2 separate regions of the Homo sapiens genome follow, and region 2 is linked to region 1. The links come from fine-mapping of genetic effects on gene expression. A gene starts in region 1. The other region holds a variant in brackets. All regions are shown on one strand. Distances are from middle to middle. Region 1 holds the start of ARSH (arylsulfatase family member H). Region 2 overlaps ARSH (arylsulfatase family member H).

The links. PIP is the estimated chance that this variant, and not a neighbour inherited with it, causes the effect.
Region 2: its variant is fine-mapped to the expression of ARSH in breast (GTEx, PIP 0.93).

The regions. Positions count from the first base shown.
Region 1 is chrX:3,004,866-3,007,791 of GRCh38, reverse strand. ARSH (arylsulfatase family member H) reads right to left here and starts at 1,246. Exons shown (of 9, transcript NM_001011719.2): 1 at 1,088-1,246. The coding sequence starts at 1,179.
Region 2 is chrX:3,025,452-3,028,377 of GRCh38, reverse strand. It overlaps ARSH (arylsulfatase family member H), which reads right to left. Exons shown (of 9, transcript NM_001011719.2): 7 at 903-1,065. Among named protein-coding and RNA genes, the nearest start is that of ARSF, 15 kb to the left of the region's middle. The variant G/A (reference allele first, on the strand shown) is at 1,160.

The DNA.
Region 1 (2,926 bases):
TCTCAGACTTCCAGCCTCCAGGACTGTGGGAGAATCAATGTCTGTTGTTTCTAAGCCACCCAGTCTATGGTATTCTTTTATAGCAGCCTGAAATAGACTAAGACACCTCATAAGAAGAAGAGATGAGGACACAGACCCACACAGAGGGACGACCCTGTGAAGACACAGGGAGAAGACGGCATCTACAAGGACAGGAGAGAGGCCTCAGGAGGAACCAGCCCTGCCCACACTTTGATCTTGAACTTCCAGCCTCCAGGACTGTGAGAGAATAAGCTGATGTTATCTAAGCCAACCAGTCTGTGGACCTTTGTCACGGCAGCCTGAGAAAATAAATACTTTATATGATTACTTGTATATGAAATTCTAAGAAGAGACACATCCATAGAGACAGAGGGTACATTTGTGGTTAACAGGGCATGGGGATAGGATGGGAAATGGGGGTCTTCTTTGTGGGGGTGACGGTTGTCCAACACTGTGAATGTACCAAATGCCACTGAATTGTTCACTTTAAAATGGTTAAAAGGTGATTTTTTTTTTTTTTTTTAAACAGAGTCTCCCTCTGTCACCCAGGCTGGAGTGCAGTGGTGGGATCATAGCTCACTGCAGCCTCAATCTCCCTTGCTCAGGCAATCCTCCTGCCCCAGCCTCCTGAGTAGCTGAGACCACAGACACACGCCACCATGTCCCAGTAGATTTTTTTTTTTATTATTTTTGTAGAGACGGGGTCTCCCTGTGTTGCCCAGGCTGATCGCAAACTCCTGGGCTCAAGCAATGCTCCCACCTTGGCCTTCCAAAGTGCTGGGATTATAGGCTTGAGCCGCCATGCCTGATCAAAAAAGGCCAATTTTTAAATGTAAATTTTGCCCAACAATGAAAACGCCACCACCAACAGCTAGAATCTAAGGAAACTGGGAGGTTAAGTGGTCTCCTGACATTTTGCAATTTTCCCCAGTGACCTCTGCTATTCCTGCCGATAACATCAGACAATGACTTCTCTCCAGAAACCCTTCTCTGCAACGGCAAAGACGTGAACACTGTGGTAAGGGAGACTCCCACATACAGGGAGGGGGTCAGAGTCCATCTTTACCTCACTGAGTTATTACCGTAGCAGCACAAATCCCCCACTCCAAGGTCATCTGCCATCAGCAGGACAATGTTGGGTCTGGCGTTTCTTGTCATAAATGTGCCATCAACACCGCAAAACAAACAGCACAGGGACACTGACAGCCAGCAGCTCCTGAAAGCATTTTTAGAAATAAGCAAACAAACAAGCAAGCAAAAAACCAGGCACTATCAATTAACATTTGCATTTTAGATAACTTAACATATGAAACAGTGATATTCGTTATCAGTTCTCACTGTACAACGTACCTGTGTTGTCTTACTCAGAAACTAGATTAAACAACAACAACAAAAACTAATGTTCTATACCGGGGTCCCCAATCCCCTGGCCATGGACCAGTACTGGTCCGTAGCCTGTTAGCAACCAGGCCACACAGCAGGAGGTGAGTGGTGGGCAAATGAGTGAAGCTTCATCTGTATTGACAGCCGCTCCCCATTGCTTGCATCACTGCCTGAGCTCCACCTCCTGTCAGATCGGTAGCAGCATTAGATTCTCATAGGAGCGAGAACTCTATTGTGAACTGTGCATGCAAAGGATCTAGGTTGTGTGCTCTTTATGAGAATCTAATGCCTGATGATCTGTCTCTGTCTTCCATCACCCCCAGATGGGATCATCTAGTCACAGGAAAACAAGCTTAGGGCACCCACTGATCATACACTACGATGAGTTGTATAATTATTTCATTATATATTATCGTGTAATAATAATAAAAATAAAGTGCACAATAAATGTAATGTGCTTGAATCATCCTGAAACCATCCTGCACCCCCTTCCTGTCTGTGGAAAAACCGTCTTCCACAAAACCAGACCCTGGTGCCAAAAATGTTGGAGACCATTGTTCTATACGAATATGGCATCATATTTTACCAATTCATTTTGCAAGCATGATGAGGTTTAACTCTTATAACATCTTTTGATATTGTTTTAGTGACATCAGAGGCTTAAAATTTATAACAGGGGTTACAGTTGAGGGTAAGCTCTAAAAATTGAATTTTGCCGGGTGCTGTGACTCATGCCTGTAATCCCAGCACTTTGGAAGGCCAATGCGGGTGGATCATTTGAGCCCAGAAGTTTGAGACTGGCCTGGGCAGCATGGTGAAACCCCATCTCTACAAACAATACAAAAATAGCTGGGCATAGTGATGCATTCCTATAATCCCAGCTACTCAGGAGGCTGAGATGAGAGGATTGCTTGAGCCTGAGAGGTCAGGATTGCAGTGAGCTATGAATGCACCACTGCACTCCAGCTTAGACAATAGAGCAAGACCCTATCTCAAAAAAAACTTTTTTGTTTACTTTATTGAATAAAAATGTAACCAAGGCCGGGCACAGTGGCTCATGCCTGTAATCCCAGTGCTTTGAGAGGCCAAGGCAAGTGGAATACCTGAGGTCAGGAGTTTGAGACCAGCCTGACAAACATGGTGAAACCCCATCTCTACTAAAAATACAAAATTAACCGGGCATGGTGACACGCGCCTGTGGTCCCAGCTACTTCAGAGGCTGAGGCAGGAGAATCACTTGAACCCAGGAGGCGGAGGTTGCAGTGAGCTGAAATTGCACCACTGCACTCCAGCCTGGGTAGCAAGAGTGAGACTCCGTCTCAAAAAAAAAAAAAAAGTAATACCATCTGCTCGGGAGGCTGAAGCAGGGATAATTGCCTGAACCTGAGAGGCGGAGGTTGCAGCGAGCCAAGATCGCGCCACTGCACTGCAGCCTGGGCAACAGAGAGAGACTCTGTCTCAAAAAATAATAATAATTGTTCATATTTATGAGGCTTATAGGGGTGTGTGTGTGTGTGTGTGT
Region 2 (2,926 bases), 21 kb before region 1:
TTAGCTGAGCATGGTGGCGCCCGCCTGTAGTCCCAGCTACTCAGGAGGCTGAGGCAGAAGAATCACTTGAACCCGGGACGCAGAGATTGCACTGAGCCGAGATCACACCACTGCATTCCAGCCTGGCTGACAGGACGAGACTCTGTCTCAAAAAAAATAAATTTAAATTAAATTAAAAATAAGCTCATAGACAAAGTGCAAACCAGAAAGAATAATATCATTTAGCACACATGCAATTACACATACGTGTTTTGTTTTCGTTTTTGTTTTTGTTTGAAACAGGGCATCACCCTGTCACCCAGGCTGGAGTGCAGTGACGAGATCTCGGCTCACTGCAATCTCTACCTCCTGGGTTCAAGCGATCCTCCCACCTCAGCCTCCCAGGTAGCTGGGATTACAGGCACGTGCCACCACACCAGACTGATTTTTGTATTTTTAGTAGAGATGGGGGTTTCACCATGTTGGCCAGGCTGGTCTCGAACTCCTGACTTCAAGTGATCCGCCAGCCTTGACCTCCCAAAGTGCTAGGATTACAGGCACGAGCCACCGCACCTGCTCTAGGCATACATGTTTTTATTCAGTAATCATTTAACACTTAATTGCATAATGGTCTAGAAGCTGTGAGGGATGTGATGATGTATGAGAATCAGATCCCATCCATGAGAACAGTCAAACACACACAGGCATAAGTGTAATATGACAAAGGATATTAAGGTATACTCTAAGAAGAAAACAAAATATTCCACCACGCACCAAGGGGAGAAAGACATCTGGCCCTATGGGCAGAATATTGATAATTAAGTAATATACTATGTACATACACACACACATAGAATTATCAAGTATATCCACTTATGTTCAAATATATCACCCTAGGTTAGGAGCAAACACTGTTTCCATACCTGTCCTGGGACAAGATCCCTCCGCCTATATAAGACAGCGTCGGATAGATGTCCATTAAGCTGGTGGGCTCATTGATCACTCTCCCAGCCTCCAAGACTGACGGCCACCGGAATATCCCTGGCACACGGATACCTCCTTCCCATCCTCCCATTCCTTTGCCACCTAAAACCAAAGATTACGACACAACCAAAGATGAGTTAAAACCCAACCATATTGGCCGGGCACGGTGGCTCACGCCTGTAATCCCAGCACTTTG[G/A]GGGGCCGAGGTGGGCGGATCACTTGAGGTCAGGAGTTCAAGACCAGCCTGGCCAACATGGTGAAACCCCGTCTCTGCTAAAAATACAAAACCATTAGCTGGGCATGGTGGTGGGCGCCTGTAATCCAAGCTACGTGGGAGGCTGAGGCAGGAGAATCGCTTAAACCCAGGAGGCGAAGGTTGTGGTGAGCCGAGATCACGCCACTGCACTCCATGGTGGTGCATGCCTGTAGTCCCACCTACTCGGGAGGCTGAAGTCGGGGGATCAGAGACGAGGAAGTGGAGATTGCAGTGAGCTGAGATTGTGCCACTGCACTCCAGCCTCGGTGACAGGGTGAGACTCTGTCTCCAAAAAATAAAAAAGAAAAAGAAAAAGAAAAGAAAAATACAGGTTTTATCCACATTATAATGATCCTTGAGGAACAAGCTAAAAAACTTTACCCCGTGATTTCCCATATAGAGGAAGAAAGAGAGGAGTGTGAGTAGAAAAATGGCCAGAGGCAGAGTTGAGAATCACTTCTTAGACAAAAGTCCCCTTGGGTGTTTCTGAGCACAAAACAAAAATGAAGCCCTTGCCGTAAGATCAATCATGAGACTGAGGCGGTTGTTACAGAATAGAAAAATGGCCCTATGCCAAATGCCAGTGTCAAGACCATATGTCTAGACTCTTTAAGAAAAAATAGGAACCTCTCTGGAGGAAAAGGTCTCTTCCTATGTGAAATTTTCATTGAATGTCTTCTACGTGCGCACCTGTCTGACAGGCAGCATTACAAAGAAACACAAAACCGGAAGCCTCTAGCAGAAAATGAGGTAAAATTCACTGCTGACACATTCACTGATCTAACCAGTCTAACCAGTGTTGAAAGGCAGCTCAGCTTCTTGGCACCATTCTTTTTTTATTTTTATTTTTTTTAATTAAGACACTGTCTCCTTCTGTCACCCAGACTGGAGTGCAGTGGCGCAATCATAGCTCACTGCAGCTTCCAACTCCTGGGCTCAAGCGAGCCTCCCTCCTGAGCCTCCCAAGTAGCACCATTCTTTATTATAAGAAAAACTCGACAAGCTCACTGAACCAAATCTATGTGCTTTTAACATACAATCATAAAGCCATCCTGATGTTTTCTTCATCGTATTTAATAACCTGTATCTTTGTGGGGCAGAGCTGCGAGGTGTAACTAGACTAGAACAAAACCCATTGCTTACCCAGGAGATCTAAATCTCTCTATCCATTGAATTCATCGCTTCACAGGAAGCACCCTGAGAAACAGGCATCCTGTCCCAAAGCCTGAGAAATGCTCACAACAATTTTGCCAGTCCTATTCCAGGGTTATGTGTGCTTTTTAAGGACAGGGGCTTTACACTCACACATACTCATGCAATTATAATAATTATTATAATATATAATAGGTACAGTTGTTAGAATCATCATGACTGTAATAATCACACTTCGTTAGATGGCATATATATGGTGACTCAGATCTGTTCCTCACTTTTTCTACTAGGTTTAGCACCAATTTAGTCTTTGCTAATTAACAGTTATGACTACAGCAAGTCCACATGACAAGCCAGAGGAGGTGAATGCTTTCAGGAGCTCACTTCTATTAATTTACAATATATAATCCAGTATCCACAATCCTATATATATACAATGAATATAGTGAATATATATATAGGATTATGTGTAATATATAATGAATATAGTGAGTACATATAGTGAATATGTGTAGGGTTATGTATACTCTATACAGTGAATATATAGAATTCTAT